Homo sapiens: one gene and its partners. The protein of the gene in region 1 interacts with the protein of each later gene in a pairwise test. Each region holds a gene or a part of one and is shown in the gene's direction. Other genes may lie near its edges. The genes, in order: CSRNP1, ZNF587, PPP1CB and PRPF18.

Region 1 (7,802 bases):
ACTTCCCCCGCCTCTCCAGAGGAGTATCAGGGAGGAGGTAATTTCTCATTTCATTCCCGCTCTGCAGATTTGGAGGGGATTGTTCATCACTAGAACCTGCAGCATGACCGTAGCTTCCCTGTGTCTCTGTTTCCCTGTCTGTAGGCTTGGAGGTCATAACCTCCTCACCTTAAGTTCTCTTTCTGTGGCGATCCCTTAGGCAGAGCCGCAGTGCGTATCTGAGCCTGCTTTCCTGACATCTCTCTCCATCTGTTTCCTCTTGGGGGACCAGGGAGCCTCCTGGGATTGCCTACATTGGCACCTGCCTGCAGCCTGAGCTTCCCTCTCCTGCCACCAGAGCCACCCTTTTTGAGCACCATTCTTGCTTGTACCCTCTGGCACAGCTGGGGGATAGACATGTGACTCTCCTCCTGCCCCTCTTAAATTAACTGTGACAGGAGCAGGAGAAGGTCACACTGACCAGTCGCCCTCAGCAGCCTCATGTGGGTAAGATTGCCTGTGCAGTTGGGTCTATACCCGATATGCAGGGCTGGTCTGCTTACCTCTGGTATTATCAGGTGCCTTCTCTATGCCAGACTCTGTCCTAGACATGGGCACATGGGCAGCCAGAGAGAAATGCCCTCAGTGTGAGGCAGATGAGCAATGAGGCCCTTGCAGTCTGATCAGATATAGTCTGTGATAGGGAAATACCAGGGTTTTTGGGAGCTGTTTTCCTTTGGGCTGCTATAATGGAAAGTCCATAGACTGGGTTGCTTAAACAAAAGATTTATTTTTCACACTTTGGGAGGTTGTGAAGTCCAAGATCAAGGCTCTAGTCAGCCTGATGAAGTCTGCCTTCTTGGCTTGCAGATGGACACCTTCTTGCTGGGTCTGAGCTCACATGTTGGAGAGGGAGACCATCTCTTTTGTGTCACTTCTTATAAAGGTGCTAATAAGGTGTCATTCATCTCCTGATTACCCCAAGGCCCACCTCCAAATACCGTCACACTGGGGATTCAGTCTCAACATAAGAATTTTGGTAGGATACAAATATTCAGTCCATAGCAGGAGCACAGAAAGGCAGGAGGAAGGAGTGGGGGATTCAGGAAGCCCCTTGAAAGATGACTTTCTGAAAGGGAATAAGGCTGGGTTGTTCCAGCTTTGCAGAGGCCAGGAGGTGAGCAGGGACATGGCCATTACGGGAACTGCCAGTTCAGCTGGAGTAAAGAGAGCAAGGTGGGGAGAGGGAAGCAGTGGCCAGGTCAGCTTCAGCTTCTTGAATTCTGGACTTGATCCTAATGCCCCAAGGGGAGCTATAGAGTGGTTCTAGGCGTGGGAGTGGCAGGTAAATGTGTGGTTTAAGAAGGTCATTCTGGCTGCAGGATCAAGAATGGCTGGGGAAAGAGGGCAGGAGTAGAGGGACATGGGGTGGCCACTGTGGGGACAGAGACATGTTAAGGTTAGTGAACTTTTTAAATTGATAGTAACCTAAATAAAATGCGTAAGTATATAAATCTTAAGTGTCCATAAGACGAATTTTTACAATTTTAGACATTCATTTAACCACCATGCAGATCAACATAGAACTTTTACAGGTCCCCCAGCCCTTCCTACCTCCCACCCCAGAAAATTTCCCTCATGACTCTCTCCAGGGTGTCCTTCTCCCTCTCCTGGGGAACCACTGCTCTGACTTATATCATCACAGAGTAGTTCTGCCTTTTTTTTTGAACATTTGCATGTATTTCGTGTCTGCCTTCTTTCACTCAGCATGATGTCTGTGAGATGCATCTGTGTCGTGTGCATCCAGGAGCTGGAGCTCATTTTTTTTTTTTTTTTAAACAGTGTGGAATAACACATTCACTGAGCACTTATCACTAATCTAAGAACATGTGACATGTGTTGATTCTTCTAAACCCCCCAACCCTATGAGGTCTTAAGACAAAGAATTGGAGGCACAGAGAGGTTAAGGAACTTGCCCAGGATTACCCAGCCAAGTAACAGTGGAGCCAGAGTTCAAAAGCAGGCAGTCTGGTTCTGGAGCCGAAGCTCTTAACACTGCCACGTGGCCTCCATGCAAAAGCAGGCAGTCTGGTCCTGGAGCCGAAGCTCTTAACACGGCCACGTGGCCTCCATGATACCTCCTGGGTCTGTTCCTGGCTCTGTGTGGATTAAACGGATTTACATGAACTCCCAGGCATGGCGTGCCTGGATATAGATGGAGGAAGAGAGAGGAAGGAGTTGAGGATGACTGCAGGTTTCTGGCTTGAGTGACTGGGTGGGTGGTGGGGCTGTTACTAAGATAGGGAACACAGGAAGAGGAACAGATGGCATGGGGGGTGGGGAACAGACACAAGGGGTTCGATTTGGGGCCTGCAGAATTTTATGTTTCTAGGGGATGGTTGGGCGGAGATAACAAGTGGGCAGTGGGTCCTGGGGGATCTCAGGCTGGATGTGTGGTGAAGGAGGCATTCAGGGCCCTGTAGATGGCATCTGGAACTGGGGAAAGGATGGGGTCTCTTGGCAGGATGCGATGGGGACAGGATGTGTGGGTGTTGTTTGTCCATATGTGTGTTTCCGTGTTGTCTGAGCATGTGTGTACATGTGAGTATGCCTGCCTCTGGGTCATGAATCCCCCACCTCCTGGGAGAACCTGCTGGTCAGCTGGGAGCTGGGTTGTTTTTGTTTGTGGTTTGACCCTGGGAGGGGGGTGCCAAGCCTGAGAAACTACCCACGGAGAAGCCCCCGGAAACATCTGTGAGTCTTCCCCCAGGCCCAGGGTGGGGGATTGGCTGGGGAGGGAGATTTTCTTGCTTCTCTCACGCTTGCCTAGGGGAGGCTGTCCCTGGGGTAAACATTATCCAGTTAGTAAGGTTGACAGCAAACTCTACAGGATTCGGGGACTTTGTAGGCGGCTGGGAAGAGGGCAAAGGAGTGTTTGGAAAGGACACCTGAGTAGAGGAGACCAAGACAGCCTTCTGGTTGGTTTTTCCTGTTCTCTCTCATTTCCTGTGATGGCAGTGGGGGAAGGGTTCCCCAGCACTGGGGCCTCGGCCTCAGCTTCAACTTCCTTTCCCTTTCCCCCTGGTGACCTCCCCGAAGGCCCAGCTGGAGCAACAGACACAAGGTAGCTGTACTCAGCCTTTGGGATTGAGTCCTCTGGGGCTTGCCAAACCTTGGGAAGGACCCTTATTTGCTGAAGCATTCCAGGGAATGAGCCCCAAGTCTCTTCTGCTTGGATAAGGCCAGCCAGCTGTGGGAGTCTCTGGTTATGCTTCTGCTGAGGGCTGAGACTCTCACTTGGGAGACAGTGTTGTGTTGTGGGGTGCTCCATGTCACGAAGCCACAGACAGGAGAGACTTTGGACATTAGGATCAAATGAGATGTTAAAGAGACAGCCTTAGTGGCTGTGGTCACACAGGCCTGGAGGCAGGAGACTTCTTGACAGTGGAGCGGGGGTTTCTAAGGGAAAGTCTGAGAAGCTCCCACACCGGGAGGGGAAGGGCTCAGAAACTACTCCGTCTAGGAATGGAGGCCAACGTCAAAGCCAGCCTGTTCCCCAGAGTGCCTGGCTAGCCTGGAGCAAGGGCCCGCAGCCCTGCCTGTGTGCAGAGTGGCGTGCCTGTTTGGATGTGCTGGAGGAGGAGGAGGAGGAAGCAGAGCCACCATACCAGGGCCGTGCGGGCTGTGCGGGCTGTAGGGCGTACACACACACACATACACACACACACACACACACACACAGGCACACAGATGCAAGCTGTGTGAATCACCCAGCCTGTGAGTCAGCGCCAGGATTCCTGTCGGGGAATGAGTGAGACCAGGCTGAGGTCTGTCAGTCCATCTGTTGGTCTGTCTGCCTCCTTCCCCTGCTGGTGTGGATGCATGTGTGTGTGTGTGTGTGTGTGTTTTGTGTATGTATGTAAGTGTGTGTTGTAGGAGGTAGTGGGGAAGGTGCCTGGTGCCTGGGAAGGCTTTGGGCAGAGGTGGGAGTTTGAAGCATCAGGCTGTGGATTTGCACATTAGTTTGGAGGGAGGGAGGTGCTGTGTCTTGTGCAGAGATCCTCCTGGAGACTGTGCCCTCCCCCACACAGAGCTCCACAGGCAGGGCTGGAGGGCAGAGGCCAGGGTCTGGGATGCCTTGGAGGGTAAGTGGGAGGGATGATGATCCTGGCTGGAAGTCCACCTGCTGCTGCCTGCCTGCCACTTAGAGCCTTCTCATTCCTATTCCAGGCTGTCTGTCCCCAGACCCCAGAGCACGTCCGGCACCACCATGACTGGGCTGTTGAAGAGGAAATTTGACCAGCTGGATGAGGACAACTCCTCGGTCTCCTCCTCCTCCTCTTCCTCTGGGTGCCAGTCTCGCTCCTGCTCCCCAAGCTCTTCTGTCTCCCGTGCCTGGGACTCAGAGGAGGAAGGCCCCTGGGATCAGATGCCCCTGCCTGACCGTGACTTCTGCGGCCCCAGAAGTTTCACCCGTGAGTACTCCCTCCCCTGGGAACTCCATCACCTGCCTGCCTTCCTGAAAGATGAAATTTAGAAGTCCCTGACCAAATGCCTTTGGCCTCTGGTGGTTAGGTCCCCATGGCGGTAGCTCTCATGAGCTATAATATAGTGGTCACTCAGTGTCCACTGTCCAGGGGCACCTGAGCCCAGCTAATTCACCTTTGACCTTGGGAGTGATGACATCCGGGATGCAGCTCTGCAGAGTGCTCTCAGGGCCTTCCCGGTCTGGCCCCTCCCTTCTGTTCCAGTTTCGTTTCTCCAATGAGCACCCTACCGTCCTACAAATGGAACTGCTGGAGTTCCCCGCCCGCCCCATGCTTCTCTGCCACGGGGCCTGTCAAGCCGGTCCCTCTCCTGTCAAAATGCTGTCCATTTTGCCTGAACATAGTGAAAAGGGGTTTTTCCTGGTTATTTTCAAGCTTGTATAGTTGTGATTCCAGACTGATGAACATGGCCCTAGAGCAGTGTTTCTGGACCTTATTTTTCATTATTGTTCCCCAGGAAGCCTATTTAGACATTTTCTCCTTAATTATCCCCCACCATGAAATTTTAATACAATAGATGTGCTGTTTACCTTTTTATGTACTGTAGGTATATATCTGTGCATTACACATAAAAAGAATATAATTTTTAGCACATGGAATCTAACAGTATAAACAGAAAACCTTTTAGAAGGGAATTCCCTCTGGTAGCTGGGTACAAAATTAATATAGTAAGTTGAAATATATGGAATTTCCAATATTTGACCATTACATGGTAATTTGCTATGGTTCAACCTAATGAAAATACCAGTACATAGCTTACTAATCAATAAACATTAACTTGTAAAGGGAAAGCCTTTTTAAGCCTGTTGCAAAACACAGAAATCCTACAAATCAATAAAAAACAATAGAAAACTGTACAAAGGACCTGTACATGGCTAATAAACATAGGAAAGATGTTTAATCTTACGAATACTGTCATTTGGACTGGTAAATAACAATAAGCCAGTTCTGACATGGGTGTGGTATTCAGTTTCAGCCGCTCCAGTCCCAACCACACAGGCTCCTAAATTCACATTTCTTTTTTCAAAATGGGTGGAGAGGGAGGAGGGAAAAGGTGGGAGGCGGGAGGGCAGTCTGGCATGATCTTTTTGGAGGTAAGTTGTGCCTCACTGAAAACTAATCCCCAGCCCATCTTTGCCTGCTTTCTAGCCCTGTCTATCCTGAAGCGGGCTCGCCGGGAGCGCCCAGGCCGTGTAGCCTTTGATGGGATCACCGTCTTCTACTTCCCCCGCTGCCAGGGCTTCACCAGTGTGCCCAGCCGTGGTGGCTGTACTCTGGGTATGGCCCTTCGCCACAGTGCTTGCCGTCGCTTCTCTTTGGCTGAGTTTGCGCAGGAGCAAGCCCGTGCACGGCACGAGAAGCTCCGCCAGCGCTTGAAAGAGGAGAAGTTGGAGATGCTGCAGTGGAAGGTAGAGAGAGTCCTCTCCGTGGCGCACCTCCTGAGGCAGCTCCTGGAGTCCTAACCTTGAGGGGTGGGCGTACCAGGGGTGGGTGCTGACTTGCTCATTATGGTTATGGGGAAACAGGCCTGTGGGCCTGGTGATTGGCTTGATTGGAGCCTGTTGCCTGGGTTGTCTGCAACAGGAGGCGCAGAGGAGGGCTCGTGTCTATTTGCTGCAGGGGCTGGGGGCATGATACCTGAATCTGAACTTTTTGGAGAGGGGGATGTGAAGTTGATATGAACTGGAGGGGGTGCGTATCTGTCTGGTTAGGAAAGGGAGTCTGTCCATGATCTAGGGAATGCCATGAGTAGGATATCTCTTTTTTTTTTTTTCAAATGCCCTGAGGGCAGTTTTCTTGGCTGTCCTGTTCACTGTCTGACACACAGTGCCCATCGCAGATTAAGCACGAGTAGTGGGGGGGTAAGCACTTGGGGAGGGTTTGTCTAGTGACAGTAGGGCTAAGCCCATGTCCATGTCTGTGCTTCTTACATCCCTCTTTCCTGTGGATGCAGCTTTCGGCAGCTGGGGTACCCCAGGCAGAGGCAGGGCTGCCACCTGTGGTGGATGCCATTGATGACGCCTCTGTGGAGGAGGACTTGGCAGTCGCTGTGGCAGGTGGCCGGTTGGAAGAAGTGAGCTTCCTACAGCCCTACCCAGCCCGGCGACGTCGAGCTCTGCTGAGGGCTTCAGGTGTGCGAAGGATCGATCGGGAGGAGAAGCGGGAGCTGCAGGCACTGCGCCAATCCCGGGAGGATTGTGGCTGTCACTGCGATAGGATCTGCGACCCTGAGACCTGCAGCTGCAGCCTGGCAGGCATCAAGTGCCAGGTGTGGTGGCTGGACTGGGATGGGGATCCTGAGCGTGGGGACTTCTTTGCACTCCACAGAACCCTCACTTGTACCTCTACTTTTCTCTGCAGATGGACCACACAGCATTCCCCTGTGGCTGCTGCAGGGAGGGCTGTGAGAACCCCATGGGCCGTGTGGAATTTAATCAGGCAAGAGTTCAGACCCATTTCATCCACACACTCACCCGCCTGCAGTTGGAACAGGAGGCTGAGAGCTTTAGGGAGCTGGAGGCCCCTGCCCAGGGCAGCCCACCCAGCCCTGGTGAGGAGGCCCTGGTCCCTACTTTCCCACTGGCCAAGCCCCCCATGAACAATGAGCTGGGAGACAACAGCTGCAGCAGCGACATGACTGATTCTTCTACAGCATCTTCATCAGCATCGGGCACTAGTGAGGCTCCTGACTGCCCCACCCACCCAGGCCTGCCTGGCCCTGGCTTCCAGCCTGGCGTTGATGATGACAGCCTGGCACGCATCTTGAGTTTCAGTGACTCTGACTTCGGTGGGGAGGAGGAGGAAGAGGAGGAAGGGAGCGTGGGGAACCTGGACAACCTCAGCTGCTTCCATCCAGCTGACATCTTTGGTACTAGTGACCCTGGTGGCCTGGCCAGCTGGACCCACAGCTATTCTGGCTGTAGCTTCACATCAGGCGTCCTGGATGAGAATGCCAACCTGGATGCCAGCTGCTTCCTAAATGGTGGCCTTGAAGGGTCAAGGGAAGGCAGCCTTCCTGGCACCTCAGTGCCACCCAGCATGGACGCTGGCCGGAGTAGCTCAGTGGATCTCAGCTTGTCTTCTTGTGACTCCTTTGAGTTACTCCAGGCTCTGCCAGATTATAGTCTGGGGCCTCACTACACATCACAGAAGGTGTCTGACAGCCTGGACAACATCGAGGCACCTCACTTCCCCCTGCCTGGCCTGTCTCCACCTGGGGATGCCAGCAGTTGCTTCCTGGAGTCCCTCATGGGCTTCTCCGAGCCAGCCGCCGAA
Region 2 (7,802 bases), on another chromosome or scaffold:
ATTCCCATTTCTGTCAACCAATGTAAACACCCTTGTAAGATTAACCCAGGATTTGCTACCAGGTTGTGAAATGCTTAGAGATAAAACGGATCAAAGTCAGGAGGTGATATTACCACAGTTCTACCTGGCTACAGGCTTCATCTGGCTGGACCTTGTTGCATAGACTGTGGGTTGAGGGAAGAGGAAGAAAGGTCAGAGATAAGGCTCCTGCCATAATCCAGGTGAGGGTTAATGGATCAGATAAGTGGTAAATCACATGGGTCTGGATTCAGGATTCACTTTTTGTAAAGAGACAGCTAGGTTTTCTTTTTTTTTTCTTAACGTGGAATTTCAGTCTTGTTGCCCAGGCTGGAGTGCAATGGCGCAATCTTGGGCTCACTGGAGCCTCTGCCTCCCAGGTTCAAGCAATTCTCCTGCCTCAGCATTCAAGGTAGCTGGCATTACAGGCACCCACCATCATGCCCAGCTAATTTTTGTATTTTTAGTAGAGACGAGGTTTTACCATGTTGGCCAGGCTGGTCTCGAACTCCTGACCTCAAGTGATCGTCACATCTCGGCCTCCCAAAGTGCTGGGATTATAGGCATGGACCAATGCGCCCAGCCGAGACAGCTAGGCTTTTTTTTTTTTTTTTTTTTTTTTTTTTTTGAGACGGAGTTTCACTCTCTTGTCCAGCCTGGAGTCTAGTGGCACAATCTCAGCCCACTGCAACCTTCACCTCCTGGGCTCAAGTGATTCTCCTGCCTCAGCCTCCTGAGTAGCTGGGATTACAGGCATGTACCACCACACTCGGCTAATTTTTCTATTTTTAGTAAAGTCGGGGTTTCACCATGTTGGCCAGGCTAGTCTCAAACTCCTGACCTCAGGAGATTCGCTGGCCTCTGCCTCCCCAAGTGCTGGGATTATAGGCACGAGCCACCATGCCTTGCAGACAGCTAGATTTTCTAATGTGGATGATAGGAGCATGAAAGAGGAATCGGGCATGAGCCCAAGGTTTTTGATCTTAGCAGCTGTAACCATGCACACTGCTTCAGCTGAGATGACGTTGGTATTGACATAATATTCACTGTGGATATCCAGAGGGTTGTTTTGGCCATATGAAGAATCAGAGACCAATAAGTGGTGGCATCAAATCGATAACTAGACATACTGGATGGGGTATCTGGGAGGGTGTTGATACTGGAGACATCCAATATATGAAAGCTAATGAGTGAACTATGATTAGTTATGGGTCCATTTAGGAGGACATGCTTCAGATTATGGTGGTAAATCTTTTCAGGGGGCAGAAAGGTGTGATTACAGGCTGAGGACTGGATCTCTTACTTACGTCCTCAATTGATGTTATTGGGCTTCCTAAACACCTGAGAGGGTGTGAGTGACCATCATAACAGGACATTTAATACAGTAGAGTTTGGAAGGGGACATAGACATCCAAAGAGATAATAGAGAAGAGATAGATGCATGCAGAAGCACAGGAGTAATTCAGGGAAGATGACACTTAGGCCTGAGTTGGTGCCAAAGTTGTAACTTTTTTGTTTTTTTTTTTTTTTCAGATGGAGTTTCGCTCTTGTTGCCCAAGCTGGAGTGCAATGGTGCCATCTCGGCTCACTGCAACCTCCACCTCCTGGGTTCAAGCAATTCTCCTGCCTCAGCCTCCCAAGTAGCTAGTATTACAGGCACCTGCCACCACAGCAGGCTAATTTTTGTATTTTCGGTAGAGACAGGGTTTCACCATGCTGACCAGGCTAGTCTTGAACTCCTGACCGGGTGATCTGCCTGCCTCGGCCTCAAAGTGCTGGAATTGCAGGCGTGAGCCACTGTGCCTGGCCAGTTGTAACTATTTATCACTGTCTGGACTCATAAACATTTTGAGATGACTTTGGGAGTGCCTGGGGAGTTTCATTCAGCCTGGTGCATATGGGCAGTGAAAAATATGCTCATCTGTGATAGTAGATGTGGTTTGGTTCACAAATCCAGGGGCTGGGCTTTAAACGGCATTAGGTGGACAGAGGAGGGTTGCTACAGCTGAGGTCTCAGCTGGTGCAGCACAAAAGTGAAATAGGGCCATGGCTATCTGAAGCCATATGTGGTTCTGTGTGGCTATGGAGTCATTCCAGGAGACGTTCACAGGATGATTTGGGATTACCACTGCTATTGTAAACCATGGAAATTCTGTGTTAATATTGGATGCTATTTGTATTTGTCAAGCATAGTCTGGATGCTTATCCACATTTTGGTATAAGGCCAGAATTGAAGGCCCAATATGATGTGTCACTTTGACATCTTGTGAAAGTGGGACAACCTTAAAAGGTGTGAGTACAAATCTCATTCCCACTCTGCTCTCTTGAATAATGTATCCTAGCCTAACAGCCCGTTTTATCAAGGTGATAAGGCAGGGTTCCAGGTTGTTATATTTTGTGGTGGGTTTCAATTCCATCCCTACCAGCAGAGTTATGGAAACAAACCATTGCATATTCCCAAGGGAATCATGGGCCGTTATACCCTCTTCATCTTGTGAAATAATTTTATTTGTAGGCGCTGGGTGTGGTGGCTCACCCCTATAATCTCCTCACTTTCAGAGGCCAAGGCTGGTGGATCACTTGAGACCAGAAATTCAAGACCAGCCTGGCCAACATGGTGAAACCCCGTCTCTACTAAAAAAAAAAAATACAGGCCAGGCATGGTGGCTCAAGCCTGGAATCCCAGCACTTTGGGATGCTGAGGTGGGTGGATCAGGAAGTATGGAGATCGAGACCATCCTGGCTAACACAGTGAAACCCCGTCTCTACTAAAAAAAAAAAAATACAAAAAATTAGCCAGCTGTGGTGGTGGGCACCTGTAGTCCCAGCTACTCGGGAGGCTGAGGCAGGAGAATGGCCTGAACCTGGGAGGCAGAGCTTGCACTGAGCTGAGATCATGCTACTGCCCTCCAGCCTGGGGGACACAGCAAGACTCCGTCTCAAAAAAAAAAAATTAGCCGAGTGTAGTGGTACATGGCTGTAATCCCAGCTACTTGGGAGGCTGAGGCACAAGAATCACTTGAACCTGGGAGGCGGAGGCTGCAGTGAGCCATGATTGTGTTCCTGCACTCCAGCCTGGGTGGCAGAGCTAGACTATGTCTCAAAAAAATCCCCCAAAAATAAACTTTTACTTCTGGGGATGCCAGAGAGGGGCTGAAGGTTGGGGAAACTCTGGTGGGGGTGGCCATGGGCATGTGTCTGTACAGTATAAAGAATGATATATATTTAATGAGAGCGAGGTTGTCTGATGGACTCAGGCAGCTGCCTTGGGCTTTACGTGACCTTGGATATCGCTGTTCAGAAGGGGGTGTGGGCTTTTTTTGTTTTTTTTTTTTTTGAGATGGTGTCTCGCTCTGTTGGCCAGGGTGGAGTGCAGTGGTGTGATCTCGGCTCACTACAAACCCCGCCTCCTGGGTTCACGCCATTCTCCGGCCTCAGCCTCCCGAGTAGCTGGGACTACAGGTGCCCACCACCATGCCCGGCTAATTTTTTGTATTTTTAGTAGAGACAGGGTTTCACCATGTTAACCAGCATAGTCTCTATCCCCTGACTGCAAGATCTGCCCGAATCAGTGTCCCAAAGTGCTGGGATTACAGGCGTGAGCCACCGCACCCAGCCCAGAAGGGAGTGGACCTTTTTATGTCAGGACCTCAGCATGGATACCTATTTGTCCACCTACTTCTTGTTGCTGATGGCATTTGACCAGCAGGCCCATGAAGAGACAAAGGCACCAGTGGATGTGGTTTCAACTCCGTGTTGGGGACCTTGGGAGGAGGATGGGCAAGGGTGGGTGTGTGGGAGAGGTGGGTTGTGGTACCTCAGCAGAGGGGCTGCTTGTGGTTTCATCTGTCACTATCATAGCAGGGCACTGTGACCTTTGAAGATGTGGCTGTGAACTTTTCCCAGGAGGAGTGGTGTCTTCTTAGTGAGGCTCAGAGGTGCTTGTACCGTGATGTGATGCTAGAGAACCTGGCTCTCATATCCTCGCTGGGTAAGTTGCTCACGCTCACCTTTGTGACCTGAGCTAGTGTTACTGTTCCCCTGTTTTTCATTGACAGGACTGTCTTTCTCACCTAAGGAGCCTGGACACAGGTTCCTTCTGCACTTCTCTGTGTAAGTTGTGTGGTTCGTAGGAGTAAGGTGTGTGTATTGCCTTTTCCTCTCCTGTTTTTTTTTTTTTTCTGAGACAGTGTCTCGCTCTGTCACCCAGGCTGGAGTACAGCGGCGCCATCTCGGCTCACTGCAAGCTCCACCTCCCGGGTTCATGCCGTTCTCCTGCCTCAGCCTCTCAAGTAGCTGGGACTACAGGCGACTACCACCACGCCTGGCTAATTTTTTTTGTTTTTTAGTAGAGACGAGGTTTCACCGTGTTAGCCAGGATGGTCTTGATCTCCTGACCTCGTGATCCACCTGCCTTGGCCTCCCAAAGTGCTGGGATTATAGGCGTGAGCCACCACGCCCAGCCACCTTTTCCTCTCCTTAAGCAGCTCCAACACCTGCTTTGCTCCAGGCTCCCAGGGAAGGAGTCAGAGTCAGGAGTCTTATAGGCACCTTAATGTATCCACTTTGCCTGCCTCTGGCTGTCAGGTGACTGTCCAAATCGGTAGCTCTTGTGTGCCCAGGTTCTATTAACACTTCCTTCCTCTATCTGACAATGCTTTGTGCCTCCCTGTGCCAAGAATTGCCTTCATTGACATTGTCACTACCTACATAGACCATAGACCATAGACTCTTCTTGCAAGACCCTGCTTAGGAATTCTTTTGTAATACTTACCTTACTCTCCTGTGGGCTGTCAGGTGCTTAGTTGTCCTGAGCTAGTGTTGGCTGTTCATCTCTGCTATCTCTCCTTTCATAGTTACATCGTCGGGTCCTATGTACTGGGTGTGAGATGGAGAGTCCTCCATGTTTGACAAGATGTGGTTCAATTCAGGCTCATCACGATAGGCTCAAAGGGAGCCTGTCCCTCAGGAGTGCCATGCTGGGGGAGGGCATGACTTCAGGGGTTTATCCAAATCATACCAGAAACCATTTACATTTGCCAAGTATTTTTGGGGCAATATGAGTAGGCACACACTATTTGTCTTTTTCTCCCCATTGTTGAGAGTTTCACATGTGTTAGTTCTGTACCTTTTCATTTCTGCAGTGATATCCACCCCAGCACTAATACTCACATTTCTGGACTCCACATCTCACCCATTTTTCTTTTGCTTTCATCTGCAGTTGTCTCTGATATTGGTGTATTGATTACGTATTAGGAAGTGTATGCCCATGGTTAAACCATCTATGACCACCCCTGCTGTGTTGTACTCATGTTTTCTTGGTCTTCACATGTTTCTATATATATATAGATGTATATATATGTGTGTATGTGTATATATATATATGTGTGTGTGTATATGTATATTTTTGAGAGAGAGTTTTGCTCTTGTTGCCCAAGCTGGAGTGCAATGGTATGATCTCGGCTCAGTGTAACCTCTGCCTCCTGGGTTCAAGCGATTCTCCTGCCTCAGCCTCCCAAGTAGCTGGGATTACAGGCACATGCCACCATGCCTGACTGACTTTTTGTATTTTTAGTAGATACAGGGTTTCACTATATTAGCCAGGCTGGTCTCGAACTCCTGACGTCAGGTGATCTGCCCGCCTCGGCCTTGCAAAGTGCTGGGATTACAGGAGTGAGCCACCGTGCCCGGCCCATATTCTTCTATATAGCACTCACATGTCATCAGGAGATAAGGTCCTGTACACAACTTGTTTGTAGAGGAAGGAGCTGTAGACCCTGCCTCTACTCCCTGTGTTGCATATATGCTTGTGCTCTTTACATCATGAAGCCTCCTGGATTCTGTGACCTTTATAGCCCAGGAATTCTAAGAAGCCCCATCTTTTTTTTTTTTTTTTTTTTTGTGATTGAGTCTCACTCTGTTGTCCAGGCTGGGGTGCAGTGGCGTAATCACTGCTCACTACAAACCTCTGCCTTCTGGGTTCAAATGATTCTCCTGCTTTAGCCTCCCGAGTAGCTGGGATTACAGGTGTCCACAACCACATCCAGCTAATTTTTGTATTTTTAGTAGAGATGGGGTTTCACCATGTTGTTCATGCTGGTCTTGAACTTCTGACCTCAGGTGATCCACCCGCCTCAGCCTCCCAAAGTGCTGGGATTACAGGTGTGAGCCACCATGCCCAGCCAGCAGCCCCATCTTCAACTTGAAGCCAACATTGTGTTCCTGCAAATATTTCTATAGATTAATTCCTCAATTTGTGAGACGTACTTGTGGGTGGGCTGTGCCTTCCCGCCGGAGGTACTTTGCACTTGACCAGCATTTTCTTGCTTTCAGGTTGTTGGTGTGGATCAAAAGATGAGGAGGCACCTTGTAAGCAGAGAATTTCTGTACAAAGAGAGTCTCAGAGCAGGACTCCTAGGGCAGGTGTTTCTCCTAAGAAGGCTCACCCCTGTGAAATGTGTGGCCTCATCTTGGAGGATGTTTTTCACTTTGCTGACCACCAGGAAACTCATCACAAGCAGAAGCTGAACAGGAGTGGAGCATGTGGAAAAAACTTGGATGACACTGCATACCTTCATCAGCACCAGAAGCAGCATATTGGAGAGAAATTCTACAGAAAGAGTGTCAGAGAAGCATCGTTTGTAAAGAAACGTAAGCTCAGGGTGTCACAGGAGCCATTTGTCTTCCGCGAGTTTGGGAAGGACGTTCTGCCCAGTTCAGGATTGTGCCAAGAAGAAGCTGCTGTAGAGAAGACAGACAGTGAAACTATGCATGGCCCACCCTTTCAGGAGGGAAAAACTAATTACAGTTGTGGAAAACGCACAAAAGCCTTCAGCACCAAACACTCAGTTATTCCACACCAGAAACTTTTCACTAGAGATGGATGTTATGTGTGCAGTGATTGTGGAAAATCCTTTAGCAGATATGTCAGCTTCAGTAATCATCAGCGAGATCACACTGCAAAAGGACCTTATGATTGTGGAGAGTGTGGGAAATCTTATAGTCGAAAGAGCAGCCTTATTCAACATCAGCGAGTCCACACTGGACAGACAGCTTATCCCTGTGAGGAGTGCGGGAAATCTTTTAGTCAGAAGGGCAGCCTTATTAGCCATCAGCTTGTTCACACTGGAGAAGGGCCTTATGAGTGTAGAGAATGTGGGAAATCTTTTGGTCAAAAGGGTAACCTCATTCAACATCAGCAAGGTCACACTGGAGAGAGAGCTTATCACTGTGGGGAATGTGGGAAATCTTTTCGTCAGAAGTTCTGCTTTATTAACCATCAGCGTGTTCACACTGGAGAAAGGCCTTACAAGTGTGGAGAATGTGGGAAATCTTTTGGTCAAAAGGGCAACCTCGTTCACCATCAGCGAGGTCATACTGGAGAAAGGCCCTATGAGTGCAAGGAATGTGGGAAATCATTTAGGTACAGATCCCACCTCACTGAACACCAGAGACTTCACACTGGGGAAAGACCTTACAATTGTAGGGAATGTGGGAAATTATTTAACAGGAAGTATCATCTTCTGGTTCATGAGAGAGTTCACACTGGAGAAAGGCCATATGCGTGTGAGGTATGTGGGAAATTATTTGGCAATAAGCACAGCGTGACTATACATCAGAGGATTCACACTGGAGAAAGGCCGTATGAATGCAGTGAATGTGGGAAATCATTTCTTTCCAGCTCTGCGCTTCATGTTCATAAAAGAGTTCATTCTGGACAAAAGCCTTATAAGTGCAGTGAATGTGGAAAATCCTTTTCTGAATGTTCCAGTCTCATTAAACAC
Region 3 (7,802 bases), on another chromosome or scaffold:
GCTGAAAAGATAGATGCACTTGCCTAGGCCCGAGGTAATAAATGGTTTATTCTCTGGCAGAACATAATTCACTATATTAATTGAAATATGTTTTCCAGTAGACATTAAACACGTAATGAATTGTAGTTCTTGTACATTAGTGTAGCTAAGGATAGAAGTGTAGCAGTATGGATACGAATGTTTAGCTTCATTCCTTGTGATGATACTTGGATTGCCTATCAGAGAGAAATAATAGCTTATATACCACTTCAAAGATTGCAGAGTATTTTTATGAGCTTTTCCTGTTAATCCTTCTGATCAATAGTTTATGACTTCATGAAGATAATGAACATGTTGGAGTGGGATGTGAAAAGAAGGTCTTAGGGAACCAAGTGAGGCACTTTCACTTAGAAGTTAAAATGTTTAAGATTAGTGGTAAGAACTGGCAAAAGTGGTAGGAAGGGTTGCAGTTGATTATGTTTCTATGAAGGCCAGGGAATGATTGGAAAAAAGAATGGTAGTTTTTTTTTTCCTTGGGAAGTCTTTTGAAATATAAAGGAATTTCATTTCCCTGGTAGGGAAAAATGGAAAAAAACAATTATAATGCTGTATTATATCAAAGTGGAATTCCTAATAACTCTGTGTTGCCCTTTAAGACATTAAAAGGGGCAGGGCGCGGTGGCCCACGCCTGTAATCTCAGCACTTTGGGAGGCCAAGGTGGTTGGATCATGAGGTCAAGAGATCGAGACCAGCCTGGCCAACATGGTGAAACCCCGTCTCTACTAAAAATACAAAAAATTAGCTGGATGTGGTGGCGCGCGTCTGTAGTCCCAGCTACTCGGGAGACTGAGGCAGGAGAATCGCTCGAACCCGGGAGGTGGAGGTTGCAGTGAGCTGAGATCACGCTACTGCACTGCAGCCTGGGTGACAGAGTAAGATTCTGTCTCGAAAAAAAAAAAAGACGTTAAAAGGAACACTTTTCAGTATCTTTAATTTCACATAGTGAATCTATTTTGATTAAATGCTTTTTATTCGGTGACTGTTAAAATATTAAAATTTTTAGCTGTTAGTACTATGTCTCATCTTTTTATTTATAGGATTGTCACCAGACCTGCAATCTATGGAGCAGATTCGGAGAATTATGAGACCTACTGATGTCCCTGATACAGGTAAGTGTAGAGAGAAGTTTAATTGTTTTGTGTAAAGTGTTTTCATATTTGAACTTGATTACATTTAGTGGAAGTAGGATTGGCTTATGTAATAAATAAAAGAGCTTTTTTCATAGTCAATAAGCCAGCTACAGATTACTTTATTTGCAGTAATACACAATTTTTCACTTTGCACTGATCCTCAAAATGCGGAACCTTTTTATTTATAGTCATAATGTAGTTATTTGATCACAAAAAAGATTTTGCTGTTGAGTCCTTATACCTATTTTTCTAAATTCCCTCATTCATACTAGCATTGGTTATGTTCTTCAAAAATTTGTTAAATTAGACAAAAGTTTTTTAATTAAAATAATCTATTCTTTGCTTCTTAGGCAAGGATACAACTACCTTCTTTTCAAATGTCTAGTAGTTTTTTGTTATTTTCTATGTCCTCTATTTGAAATTTTTAGAGCTTTTTTTCAAGGGGGTGTGGGAGGGATTTCAATCTGTTGCCCAGGCTGGCCTTGAATTCCTAGGCTCAAGCAATCCTCCTGCCTCTTCTGAGTAGCTAGGGGACTCCAGGCATGTGCCATACCTGGCTTAAATTTTTAGAGCTCTTAAGGCTCTAGAGACCTGTGGTCAGTTTTGTGAAAATTACATTGGAAATCTCTGGGAAGGCTGGGAGCAGTGGCACTCACGCCTGTAGTCCCAGCGCTTTGGGAGGCTGAGGTGGGCAGGATCACTTGAGGTCGGGAGTTCCAGACCAGCCTGGCCAACGTGATGAAACCCCATCTCTACTAAAAATAACAAAAATTAGCTGGGCATGGTGGTGCGTTCCTGTAATCCTAGCTACTCAAGAGGCTGAGGCACGAGAATTGCTTGAACCTGGGAGACAGAGGTTGCAGTGAGCCGAGATCACACCACTGCACTCCAGCCTGGGTGACAGAGTGAAACTGTCTCAAAAAAAAAAAAAAAAAGAAAAAAGAAACAACAATCACCACAAAAAATGCTGCTCAGAACTACACATCAACCATTATAAATGGTATAGATCCTCTGATGTCAGTAGCCATGTAATACACTGTATGTTGTAATAAATTGTGTTAGGAGCTTTTTTTTTTTTTTTTTTTTTTTTTTTTGAGACAGAGTCTTGCCCTGTCACCAGGCTGGGGGGCAGTGGTGCAACCTCGGCTCACTGCAAGCTCTGCATCCCGGGTTCAAGTGATTCTTCTGCCTCAGCCTCCCGAGTAGCTGGGACTACAGGCGCCCGCCACCACACCCGGCCAATTTTTTGTATTTTTAGTAGAGATGGGGTTTCACCATGTTGGCCAGGATGGTCTCGATCTCTTGATCTTGTGATCCACCCACCTTGGCCTCCCAAAGTGCTGGGATTACAGGCGTGAGCCACCACACCTGGCCTGTGTTATGAGCTTTTTTACATAACACGACTTGTTGTGTTGATTATTTTTTAAAGTATGCATTTTATCACAGTTTTTGATTGTAATTATAGAATACATTTGACTAAACCTAACAAACTGGTATTTAAATAGTATTTTATTTAAAATGCTGTTTTTAGGCCTGGTGCACTAGTTCATGCTTGTAATTCCAACAGTTTGGGAGGCCAAGGCAGGAAGATCACTTGAGGTGAGGAGTCGAGACCAGCCTGGGCAACATAACACCCATCTCTACAGAGAAAAAAAAAATTTTTTTTTTTAATTAGCCACATGTCGCAGCACCGCGGCTACTCAGGAGGCTGAGGCAGGAGGATCACTTCAGCCTGGGAAGTTGAGGCTGCGGTGACCTGTGATTGTGCTCCTGCATTCTAGCCTGGGTGACACAGTGAGACCCTCTCTTTCAAAAAACACCCAAAGTGCTATTTTTAAAATAAGGTATAATATAAATATGTATTACTGGTCATTCTTCAGAATATCTGTTTATAGTTCAGATGTAAACTGATCTAGTGTGATATGCTAGGCTTCTGTTTTTAGCATGTTTTATTTATTTTAGCGTATTTTAATGAGAAGTTTTCAAGATGCTGAAAACAGTTATTTTGATCTTTGATAGTGTCTGCAACATTCAGAAATTTAATTTATAAGTTAATACATTATTTGAAGCAGCCTAGTTGATTGTGATGCTAGCTCATTAAACAATAAATCTTGACTCTGAAATTCTTTTTGAGACAGAATTTCACTCTTGTCGCCCAGGCTGGAGTGCAATGGCCTGATCTCGGCTCACTGCAACCTCCACCTCCCAGGTTCAAGCAGTTCTCTTGCTTCAGCCTCCCAAGTAGCTAGAATAACAGGTTCCTGCCACTGTGCCCAGCTAATTTTTGTATGTTTAATAGAGACAGGGTTTCACCATGTTGGCCAGGCTGGTCTTGAACTCCTGACCTCTGGTGATCCGCCCACCTCGGCCTCCCAAAGTGCTGGGATTACAGGCGTGAGCCACCATACCTGGCCTGAAATTCTTATCTAGACCCTGTTAAGGTTAAAGAATTCCAGATTGTTGTTGCTACCATTATTTGATTTTTTTAATGCATCCAGAGTGTCATGTTTCCTAAACCTCAAACTCTATTCTAATTTTATACAGTTTTATTGTCTCACTGAAATTATAGATTCTTGAGATCGAGACCATCCTGGCTAACACGGTGAAACCCCATCTCTACTAAAAATTCGCTGGGTGTGGCAGTGGGCGCCTGTAGTCCCAGCTACTCGGGAGGCTGAGGCAGGAGAATGGCATGAACCCGGGAGGTGGAGCTTGCAGTGAGCCGAGATCGTGCCACTGCACTCCAGCCTGGGTAACAGAGCGAGACTCCGTCTCAAAAAAAAAAAAAAAAAAAAAGAAATTATAGATTCTTAATACCTTAGCTTTCTACTGGAAAGAGGCTGGAAAGTATGAAAGCATTATTAAGCACTGGGTGGGTGTATATTTTCGAAGAGTCAGCTTCAACCAGAAAGGGCTTAAGAATTGAGACTGACTATTCCAGTGGATTTTGTGTGCTAGTGAATTTCTTAAAACAACATACAGGGAGCTTGGGATATATCAATGATAGAGATTGAATACATTGCCACTAATTCTACAAATGGTTTTATAATGCCTCTATCAAGATATGATGTACTGTAACTGAAAATGAAGATGCCCTTTCCTCCTAAACCATACTATGATGTTTATGGATTATTTAAAATTCTTAAAACTGACTTAACTCTTTAAAAATTATCTTCTTGGCTGGGCGCGGTGGCTCACACTTGTAATCCCAGCACTCTGGGAGGCCGAAGCGGGCGGATCACGAGGTTAGGAGATCGAGACCATCCTGGCTAACACAGTGAAACCCCATCTCTACTAAAAATACAAAAAATTAGCCGGGCGTGGTAGCGGGCACCTGTAGTCCCAGCTACTCGGGAGGCTGAGGCAGGAGAATGGCGTGAACCCGGGAGGCAGAGTTTGCAGTGAGCAGAGATTGCACCACTGCATCCCAGCCTGGGCAACAGAGCGAGACTCCGTCTCAAAAAAATATATATGTATCTTCTCTTAGCCACTGCAATTCTTAGAAAATCACCATCACCATCTCAACATCCACCCTTCTTTTAATATCACTACAGTTGGACTTTTACCCACTCCGTTACCCTCAATCACCAAGAAACTTGCATTGAGGTCTGATGATTTAATTGTAAGTGGCACATTTTTGGTCTTCGTCCTACTGCCCTTGTTCATGGCACATTTCCTACTTTAGGACGATTGTTTCCCCTTTCGGGATACGTTTACTATACTAAGCCCTTTGTCTTGATCATTCCTTCTCAATACCTAATGTTCATTCTCCCTCATCTACCTGCCTATTAAATGTTTGAATTCCTCAGAATTCATTTGCTGGTCTTCTCACTTTGTATTCCTAAGGTGGTCTGAGTCCCTCTTAAGATTTCCACTACCATTAATATGATGACAATACTCAAGTAAATATTTTTAACCCTGACCTCTTTTCCAGGGCTCCAAACATTACCAAAGTCAAGGATCTGATCTGATTTTGTTCTTCCACATTTAAAAAAAAATCCTCAGGGTCTCAGTAGAAAATGTTTTTTTTTCGCTCAAGTGATCTGTAGATCAAATACAATTCCAGTGAAATCACAATTGAGTTTTTTATGGAATTAGGCAATTGTTTTTAATGTTTATGTGGAAGAACAAAAGATCAAAAAGTAACCAAGACAATCCTGAAAAAAAAATGGAGGATACTAGCCCTACCAAATATAAAGACTTATTAAAAAGCTCTAGTCTGTTATTGGCTCAGGGATAAGTAAAATAGACTAACAGAATAGACTGTGGTGCTCAGAAACAGTGGAACCGTAAGGAAAGGATGAACTGTTGAGGAAATACCACTGGGTTGTTTGGTTATTCATATGGAGAAACTACCCAAAAGATGAACAGCCTTTTCCATGTATTGTTGTGCTGTAAGTGCCATGCACATATTTCCTATATGTGGAAAGGGTTGGAAAGTACTACCTTAAGAGGCCATGGAAGATTATATTTGTATGGTTTGTATGGTTGCTTTAACAAAAGTATAAGTTACATAGGCTGGAATACTTAGGCAAGTGATGGTCATTGTTTAGTAAAAGGTAAGAGGGCAAGAAAGGAACTGAAATTTGATGTAGATGTGCTATATTCTATAAATCTGTAAATTTTGTTCTTAATTGCTGTATTTCTGTCCTTTAAAGGTTTGCTCTGTGATTTGCTATGGTCTGATCCAGATAAGGATGTGCAAGGCTGGGGAGAAAATGATCGTGGTGTTTCCTTTACTTTTGGAGCTGATGTAGTCAGTAAATTTCTGAATCGTCATGATTTAGATTTGATTTGTCGAGCTCATCAGGTATGAAATATAAAACTCTTAAGCTTTTTCTTTTTTCTTTCTTTTTTTTGGGGGCAGACGGAGGGGCAGACAGATTCTTGTTCTGTCACCCAGGCTGGAGTGCAATGGCGCAATCTCTGCTCACTGCAACCTGTGCCTCCCGGGTTCAGGCAGTTCTTGTGCCTCAGCCTCCCAAGTAGCTGGGACGATAGCCGTGTGCCACCACACCTGGACTCTTAAACATTTATTATTTGTTAACTTCACATAAGCCCTCTCATTTTGTTTTGAGGAAACATATCCAAGAAAGCTAAATGAGTTGTACAAGGAAAGCAGTAGGAGAGGTGGCAGAGCCAGTTCCTGGATCTCACACTTAACAATCTAGTGATTTGTTAACCTTTTATCACCCTAAAAGAGGAAATGTTTAGAAATATTTTGGGGCTGGGCATGGTGGCTCACATCTATAATCCCAGCACTTTGGCAAGCTGAGATGGGTGGATTGCTTAAGTACAGGAGTTTGAGACCAGCCTGGGCAACAAAATGAGATTCCATCTCTACAAAAAAAATCAAAAATTTAGCTGGGTGTGGTGGTGCGTGCCTGTGGTCCCAGCTACGTGGGAGGCTGAGGTGGGAGGATCGCTTGAGCCTAGGAGATCAAGGCTGCAGTGAGCCATGTTTATGTCACTGCTCTCCAGCCCTTGTGAAAGAGCTAGACCCAGTCTCAAAAAAAAGAATGTATTTTTGTAGTATACAGCAAACCTAACAAAATTTTCAGTGCTTCTTTGAAGCTTTGTAGATATGATTTAGATTTTTTTTTTTTTTTTTTTTTTTGAGATGGAGTCTCACTCTGTCACCCAGGCTGGAGTGCAGTGGCACAATCTCTGCTCACTGTAACCTCCGCCTCCCAGGCTCAAGCGATTCTTCTGCCTCAGCCTCCGGAGCAGCTGGGATTACAGGCACGCACCACCACGCCTGGCTCATTTTTGTATTTTTAGTAGAGACAGGGTTTCACCATGTTGGCCAGGCTGCCCTTGAACTCCTGAGCTCAAGTGATCTGCGCCTCAGCCTCCCAAAGTGCTGAGATGACAGGCGTGAGCGTGAACCACTGTGCCCAGCCTCATTTTTATATAATCTTTGTGCATAATGGCGATTTTGATAAGAGCAAACCACACTTTAAAAAAGTATTTTTGAGACCATTGAAGAATTTGATTGTGGCTCAGTGCAGTGGCTCATGTCTGTAATTCCAGCACTTTGGGAGGCTGAGGCAGGCAGATCCTTTGAGCCCCAGGAGCTGGAGACCAGGCTGGGCAACATGACAAAACTCTGTCTCCACAGAAGATACAAAACAGCCAGATGTGGTGGTGTGCACCTGTAGTCCCAGCTTGCTTGGGAGGCTGTGGCAGGAAAGTCGCTTGAGCTCAGGAGGCAGAGGTTGCAGTGAGTGTAGATCGTACCATTTCACTCCTGCCTGTGCAATGGGTGTGAAACTCAGTCTCAAAAAAAGAGAACATTTGATTGTAGACTTGGTAATAGGTATGAATTATTTAATCTTTTAATTTTTTGTTTTTGTTTGAGGCCGAGTCTCACTCTGTCACCTAGGCTGGAGTGCAGTGGCATGATCTCGGCTCACTGCAACTTCCGCCTCCCAGGTTCAAGTGATTCTCCTGCCTCAGCCTCCCGAGTAGCTGGGACTACAGGCGCCTGCCACCACGCCTGGCTAATTTTTGTATTTTTAGTAGAGACGGGGTTTCACTATACTGGCCAGGCTGATCTCAAACTCCTGACCCCAGGTGATCTGCCCACCTCAGCCTCCCAAAGTGCTGGGATTACAGGTGTGAGCCACTGC
Region 4 (8,002 bases), on another chromosome or scaffold:
CTTGAACACCTGGCCTCAACTGAGCCTCGGCCTCCCAAAATGTTGGGATTACAGGCATGAGCCACCATGCCTGGCCTGTCTCTCTCTTCTTGAGCTGGACATCGCCTTTTACTCCCCTTGGACATCAGAATTCCTGGTTCTTGGGCCTTCAGACTCTGGGACTTATGCTAGCCCAGCCAGCTCAACCTCCCACCTTCCTATTCTCAGGCCCCCAGACTCCAACTGAATTATGCCCCTGGCTTTCCAGGTTCTTCAGCTTGCAGAAGGCAGGATTGTGGGACTTCACAGCTTCCATAATTGCGTGAGCCAATTCCCATAATAAATCTCTTCTGATAAATACCTATATATCCTAGCGGCTCTGTTTCTCTGGAGAACCCTGACTAATACAGTCACTGTGGTTGATTTCCAGTTGCCAAGGTGGGGTCCTCAAGCCTGGAACTGGTAAGAGGTCTGCAGGAGCCACCATTTTATAGTATTTCCACCACAAAGATACAACAGTCATAAATAACTCCAAGAGCATAAGAGTAAAAATGTAGTAAAATAAGAATTAGGTTCTGTGTATTTATTAACTTCGTTTATAATATGATTTATTTGATTACAAGTAAACTCATTTGATTTTTAATAATTGCTAAGTTTGACAACTGACACAAAATTCTCAAAAATGTAACAATTGGCTCTTGTGGGACGGTATGCACCAGCCTGGCTGAAGTGGCTATCACTCTGGAATTCACATTTTATATATCCTGAGTCTTGGAAGGATCCACTCCATTCCAGTTTTAGTTTTCTAGGGAAGGGACTCTGATTGTCCCAGATTGGAGAAGTCATTCTCTGTGGTCTAACCCTACAAAGCAGTTTTGTAAAGGTGGCTGGATCTGGAGGGAGCCTGCTCCCTTGCCATTAGGAAATTCCCAGAAGCAGCATTACTGGGAGTGGACGGGTGCCCTTTGAGGTGCCTGTGACCGTGCTGCAGACACCACCGACCAGCCTTCCCGCTCTGCTCCAATTCTGAAGACTTGTGCAGACTGCATTTCAGACTGCAAATGCACTTTTTCCCCCGCAGGAGATGACAAAATAATATATTAGGTCGGCAGTTCTCAAAATGAGGTCCCTGGATCAACAGCATCCATCTCCCTTGGGAGTTTGTTCAAAAAGCAAAATCTTGGGTCCCACCCCAAGCCTATGGAAAGACAATTTCTGGGGTTGGGGACCAGCCGTCTGTGTTTCAAAAAGTCCTCCAGGTTATCCTGAAGCATGTTAAGGATTGAGAGCCACTGTATTGAATCATAGAGCTTTTCTTTGCTGTTTAAGTTACATTCCATCTTTTAGGGCAGCCACAAAACAAATCCAGGTGATCCTGATTCAATTTGGCATTTCCCTCCAGTCTCCAGAAATGACAAATAATTTCCTAGGATGAGTTACCTCTACAGAGGAATATCTCATCAATCCTGTACTGATTTTTACCCTTTTTTCTTTTAGAAGATGACTGATTTTTAATTTCTGAAATTATAGCCACATATACACTATTAAATCTTACAAAATTTAACTTTTTAAGGTCTATTTCTTGATTCCCCAACTAACTGGCTATCTCTTTGTGGGCAGGGTCTATGTTTTGGTTTAGGTCACAGAAGCTAATGTAGTATAGAGCTCATATATAAGATATTTAAATATTAGATTGAATAACTATGGAAATTTAAAAAATTCTTTATCTAATTCTTTGCTTTCTTTTATACTCTTCAAAATTTATCATATACAATGTCTAAAATAGACATGCTAGAAAATTTATAAATAGTCTAAATAATAATTAAACAGAAAAAGACTGATACCTGAATTTTCCCCCCATATTATGAGATTTGTACCAAATTGTGGTAAAAAGCAGAAAATAAGAATCCCCAATTGTTCTACTGTCCAGATAAAAACTTGATATTTTGGTATGTTTCCTTCCAATCAATGTTTTATTACGTCTATATGTTTTTGTTAAGAAGCATATGTCTATGTTTTTGTTAAAAAGCAGAGACTATATGCTATAAAGTTTCATTATGCTACTTTTGGACCGAACATTGTATCATGAGCATTCCCATACCATTGAATTTTTAAAAACATGGTTTTTAATGATGCCATGTTATTTGGTTGTGTGTATAAACTATATTTTATTTAACTATTCCTCCATTTAGAACACTTGGGTTGTTTCCAATTTTTCATTTTTATCTCTCATTTATTTATTTTTGTTTTAGAGACAGTGTCTTACTCTGCCACTCAGGCTGGAGTGCAGTGGTGCGATCAATGCTCACTGCAGCCTTGAACTCCTGGGTTCAAGTGATCTTCCTGCCTTGGCTTCCCAAAGTGCTGGGATTACAAGTGTGAGCCTCTGTACCCAGTCCCAATATTTCACTTTTTAAATAATGATTGTGATGAAATGGGATGCATGTTTTTTTAAATGAATATGGTCTCTCTTAGGGTCACGGCGATTTGTTCTTTTAAGTGTTTCTTTTCTTTTCTTTTTTTTTTTTTTTTTTTTTTTTGAGACAGAGTCTTGCCCTGTCACCCAGGCTGGAGTGCAGTGGCGCGATCTTGGCTCACTGCAACCTCCGCCTCCCGGGTTAAAGCGATTCTCCTGCCTCAGCCTCCTGAATAGCTGGGACTACAGGTGTGTGCCACCAAGCCCGGCTATTTTTGTAGTAGAGACAGGGTTTCACCATGTTGGCCAGGCTGGTCTCAAACTCCTGACCTCAGCTGATCCGCCTGCCTTGGCCTCCCAAAGTGCTCGGATTGTAGGCGTGAGCCACTGTGCCCGGCCTCTTTTAAGTATTTCTAAAAGCTCCTGGATATCTTTTTTCCTTCCTTTTGAATGGAAAAGCTTGCTTGTCAGTTGCTTGTTCAAGTATTTCTCTCTATCACTCTTTGATCTCAGGCCTTAATCAGGATTCAGTGCACATGTTTACATAAACGTAGAAATCAATGAAAGTCTAAAATGTAAGGGGAGGCTGTTAACTGTAGCTAGTAACTTCTCTGGTTTACACTGACAGTTTCCCAGGTAGCCAGCCGTTGTGTTCTCTGTAAACTTCCATTGCTGTTACTGTCATCTGTCTTAACCCTTCAGGTTTTTTTTGTGTCTAACAATCCCTAATCCCTAAATCAGGAAAATGCTAATAAATTATTATTTGCTCATTGATTAGTGAGGGAAACCCATATTCATGCAAGAGTGTTGCCATATTTAGTTCAAGGACATTTTCCTGTGTTGGCTTATTTCTGGCAAAAGTCAGGTATATTTTATTTTATTTTGTTTTGTTTTTGAGACAAAGTCTTGCTCTATCACCCAGGCTGGACTGCAGTGGCATGATCCCGGCTCACTGCAACCTCCATCTCCCGGATTCAAGCAATTCTCCTGTCTCAGCCTCCTGAGTAGCTAGGACTATAGGCACCTGCCACCACGCCTGGCTAATTTTTGTATTTTTAGTAGAGACGGGATTTCACCATGCTGGCCAGGCTGGTCTTGAACTCCTGACCTCAGGTGATCTGTCCACCTCGGCCTCCCAAAGTTCTGGGATTACAGGGGTGAGCCACCCCGTCTGGCCTCAGATATCTTTTAGATGAAGTATCACCCCCCACAAAAGACTTTCTAAATTGAAATAATTCAATTGTTCATTTTTTTGTTTTGTAAAGCATTTTACCCATTATCAGCTGACTCAACAAAATGATATTTCTTACCTTTTTTGAGTAAGAAAAACGAAATGTCAAATATTGTTCAATTATGATTTCACAAAAACAATTTTTAAACGTGCTTCAATGACATGAAAAAAATAAGTCCACTGTAAACAAATGTTAGGGACTTAAAAAATCTCTGACATAATTTTTCTCTTCAATTTAACTTTTTTTCCCTTGGGTTGGATTTAAAAAAAAAAAAGGAATTTCTGATTACATCTCCAATCATGTCACTGAAAAATCTTGATTGCTGAACACATGACCAAAAAATGATTAGTTAGCTTGAGGTAAATGTTCAATTATCACCAAGATTGGTAAGCAATCTAAAACAGAGGGAGTGAAGATAAATTGACTTCCAAACTGCTTTAAATGGTTGTAGTCGTTTAAGTTCACAGGAAATTTAACAGGCTAGTAATGAACAGACAGCCCTTTCACTCTATTGTTACAAGTTAGTATTATTGTTTAGATTTTTCTCATCCTTTTGCAAATTTTGCAAGCAAGTAACTTCAGAAACCCTAATGTAAATTTCCAGTTAATAAAGATCTTGATTTAACTGGCATTATTGAGGTGTTCTTCGAGAGGCTTTTGGAACTCAACTAGCAGGTGCAGAGAGTACTACAAAGACCCGGGTTTCCGTCCACGTTCACGTAAACCTCCCTACGAGGGGAAACTACAGGCGCGCTGCCGGAGGGCGCCGCCAGTGGGCACTCACGCACAGCTGCTTTGGCCACCACAGGCGCCCCGGGCCACTCTCTTCCCTCATCTCTCTCATCCCAGCTTCCGCCGGAAGCGGCTCCTGTCAGTTGTTCTCAGGTGTTTGGGCTTGTTGTTCCGTATACTCAGTGGGTTCGCGGCCGCCGGCCCAGTGAGGCTGGGTTCGAGGAGCTGGAGCGGGAAACTGGAGCTTAAATTCTGGCGGCGAGATGGACATTCTGAAATCAGAGATCCTTCGGAAGCGGCAGCTGGTGGAGGACAGGAACCTGCTGGTGGTGAGGACCCTGCGGTCGTGGGGGTCGGGATGTAAGAGTGAGAGTATGTGTGTCGGGGTTTTGGGGTGAGGGTGACGATACTCAGAGGATTCGGGGCGGGGACGGGGCTTAGCGAGTGTCCTGCCACTACCCCTGGTAGGCCCCCTTAGATCCAACCCTTGGCGTCTCACTGTTGAGGCTGGAGAATAGGGTCTGAGAGCAGGGAACTTGAGTACAATTCGTGCTGACTTCCCAAAGCTGGATCAAAAGGAAAACACCTGGGTCTGGGGGCGGGAACCTGAGGCCAATTAACGCCCACGTCCAAAAGCCAAACCAAAAGAAAAATCCTCATCTTCCCACCACCGAGTAGCAAAGGCTTCAGGCTGCGGCTCTCCCCGCATCCCTGCCTTTCCACCACCTCTCAGATGGGAAGGGAACGTGCCCTGCATTGGCCGTGGGCCAATCACGGGCCATCCCTTCATCTGCATAGGGCGCCAGTTCACCTCAGTCTTTAGCCACAGACCGAACCCTTCATCCAGATACGGGGTAGCTGATAGGGACCTCAGAAGGAGTACCTAAAACCCGGAAAACTTTGTAACCGGGGCCTCGAGCCGCTTGCTCGGGCCCACTCACACCCTGTGGAGTGCTTTCTCGCGTTCATAAGTCCCTACTTTTGCTGCTTCATTCCTGTGTTTTGTTACTTTTTTTGTGCGTTTTGTCCAATTCTTTGTTCAAAACGCCAAGGACCCGGGCAACTTACACTCACGGCCTTCTTTCCGGTAACCACTTGGGAGCCTTAGGGATGCAGGTGTGGGAATTGCAGGAAAACCCGAGGCTTTGTTTGTTTTCCCCCGACTGACCCTGTTTCCCTCCAGTTTACCTAACTGCCCCCTATCCCCGCTCCTACCTGTTGGCATTCTGCGGACGTGCCCCAGTGCTCCTGAGAGTTCCCTTCTGTCGCCTTACGAAGGGTTTGTGCCCAACTGAAACATGGAGGAAGGGCCGCCGGGCGCGGTGGCTCACACCTGTAATCCCCACACTTTGGTGGGCAGATCACCTGAGGTCAGGAGTTCGAGACCAGCCTGGCAAACATGGTGAAACCCCGTCTCTACTAAAAACACCAAAATTAGCTGGGCGTGGTGGTGCGCGCCTGTAATCCCAGCTACTCAGGAGGCTGAGGCCAGAGAATCACTTGAACCCGGGAGGCGGAGGTTGCCGTGAGCCGACATCGCACCACTGCACTCCTGCCTGGGCGACAGAGTGAGACACCGTCTCAAAAAAAAAAAAAAATTCCTTCTAGCCAGGTGTGGTGGTGCGCGCGTCTAGTCCCGGCTGCTTGGGAGACCAAGGCGGGAGGATCGCTTGAGCCCAGGAGTTCAGGCTGCAGTGAGCTATCATCGTGCCACTGCACTCCAGCCTGGGTGAGAGACCGAGTCCCTGTCTCTAAAAAAAAAAAAAAAAAAGTAATAAAATTCCTTTCTAATAGTAAATCCCAATTTTTTAAATTCTATTCCTCCTCCTTCTCTCTTCTTCAACACATGAAAAGTCTGTAGGCCTGCTCTTCACTGATGGGAATGCTAAGACTCTTTTGGAAAGGTACTAAAAAGGGGGAGAAAGAATTACATGATTTAGGAACTTCCTGAAGATGATCTCCCTTACTTTATTGTGTAGCAGTAACTTAGACCGCTGGTTCTCAAAGCTTTTGGTCTCAGGACCCCTTCACACTCTTAAAAGTTACTGAAGATCTTGAAGGACTTTTGTTTATGTGTTATTTCTATCCGTATTTACCATATTAGAAGTTAAAACTGAGAAACGTTAAAAATACTCACTGATCGATCATTTGGAAAACATTGGGTTACTGAATTATGCAGGTCTCCCACCTGTTGACACATTTCATTACAAAATATGAAAAGATCACTTCATTTAATATCCACTGATCTGAGAAACATCTGTAAGCATTAGGAAACTGTCAGGCTCCTGATGACAGATCTAAGTTCACCACACTTAATTTCCACTTGGAAGCTGGAATTTTATCATAGGCAACAAATATTATCAGTTATTTTCTTGAAGTGATCTGCTCACTTTGTTCAGTTTGGGGAAGTTGTCTGCCAAATACCCAAGTCTGAAGAACCATGGTTTGCCGGGTGTTCTTAAGTGTAAAAATGGTATTCCGTGAAAAAGCCAGTTTAGCTTGCAACTCAATTACTTTCCTCCACACAACCAGCAAACTTTAGTATAAATGAGAATTGTTGTATGCATCTTTCCTGTTTTGTCACATAATATTAAAAAGATATGGCCAAAGATCAAGACTTAATAAAAATAGTAATTTTACTCCTTTATCATAAGGAGTAAATTTGTTTAGAGAAACTGGCTCCCTCTGGCTGCAGTGGCAGTTTAGAGTCACTGCCTTGGTTCTTGCTAAGGCTTTAGCAAATTTACCATTGCTTTTCACCTACAGTGCAGATGTCATCAGAGTGAGCAGGCAGATAATGCCTTACTGTAGAAAACACTTTTGACCTCATGAGTCCTCTCAGAGGGTCTACAGGACCCATGGAAATCCGTGCATCACAGAATATCTGACTTAGATATTTGGATGTTGTGTACGATTGATGTATGTGATGTAGTGTAAGTAAGTTAGAGTTCTTAGCTTGGTAAATGGCAAATTTCATGATCATTGAAACTTTAAAAACAATTAGAAAAGTGGAGGTAATAGAATGCTGTTTGGTAGGTATGGGGAAAAGCTTGTTCATATTTGTAAATGTTTTTATGTCTACTGCAGGGACCTTTTGATGAGTGGTTGGGAGTATTTTAAATTTAGGTGTTGGAGTGCATAGTGGATGTTAGGAAGGGCCAGGGTGTTGAAATCTAAGTGCTTTAAAGGGAAAAGTGAATCACAAAATATTCAGCCCACCCTCAAGGTTCACAACATGAATATTTGCATAATCATGTTCTTCGTCATTGAAATGCACCAATCTACAAAAATGATCATTAAAAAAAAAACTTTAGATTCTTCAGGGTCATTTATAATTTATAATATATAAACTTTTCCTGGGTGTCTTTCATTTTTTAATTTGGTAGTTGATTGAATTATCACATAATTCCAGCCAGAAGATAAGATTGATTTTTTCAATCACAGAGCAGTTCAGACCAACAAAGGGCGTACATGAAATGGGAATTAAAATACTGACATTCGGCCGGGCGCGGTGGCTCACGCCTGTAATCCCAGCACTTTGGGAGCCTGGGGTGGGCAGATCACGAGATTGAGACCATCCTGGCTAACACGGTGAAACCCCATCTCTACTGAAAATACAAAAAAAAAAAATATATATATATAT

The links.
Region 2: the proteins of CSRNP1 (region 1) and ZNF587 interact in binary tests that used the Homo sapiens proteins (3 or more experiments, as listed by UniProt).
Region 3: the proteins of CSRNP1 (region 1) and PPP1CB interact in binary tests that used the Homo sapiens proteins (3 or more experiments, as listed by UniProt).
Region 4: the proteins of CSRNP1 (region 1) and PRPF18 interact in binary tests that used the Homo sapiens proteins (3 or more experiments, as listed by UniProt).

The regions. Positions count from the first base shown.
Region 1 is NC_000003.12:39,143,130-39,150,931, reverse strand, and holds part of CSRNP1 (cysteine/serine-rich nuclear protein 1), read left to right. Parts: exon of another isoform or gene 1-2,990; coding exon of another isoform or gene 2,991-3,103; intron 3,104-3,501; exon of another isoform or gene 3,502-3,786; coding exon of another isoform or gene 3,787-3,806; intron 3,807-4,209; coding exon of another isoform or gene 4,210-4,249; coding exon 4,250-4,454; intron 4,455-5,675; coding exon 5,676-5,935; intron 5,936-5,948; exon of another isoform or gene 5,949-6,013; intron 6,014-6,480; coding exon 6,481-6,795; intron 6,796-6,887; coding exon 6,888-7,802. UniProt on the Homo sapiens protein: Binds to the consensus sequence 5'-AGAGTG-3' and has transcriptional activator activity. May have a tumor-suppressor function. May play a role in apoptosis.
Region 2 is NC_000019.10:57,852,225-57,860,026, forward strand, and holds part of ZNF587 (zinc finger protein 587), read left to right. Parts: intron 1-3,879; coding exon 3,880-4,009; intron 4,010-4,792; exon of another isoform or gene 4,793-6,351; coding exon 6,352-7,802. UniProt on the Homo sapiens protein: May be involved in transcriptional regulation.
Region 3 is NC_000002.12:28,782,830-28,790,631, forward strand, and holds part of PPP1CB (serine/threonine-protein phosphatase PP1-beta catalytic subunit), read left to right. Parts: intron 1-1,077; coding exon 1,078-1,149; intron 1,150-5,828; coding exon 5,829-5,980; intron 5,981-7,802. UniProt on the Homo sapiens protein: Protein phosphatase that associates with over 200 regulatory proteins to form highly specific holoenzymes which dephosphorylate hundreds of biological targets.
Region 4 is NC_000010.11:13,582,465-13,590,466, forward strand, and holds the start of PRPF18 (pre-mRNA-splicing factor 18), read left to right. Parts: upstream 1-4,500; 5' UTR 4,501-4,622; coding exon 4,623-4,688; exon of another isoform or gene 4,689-4,719; intron 4,720-8,002.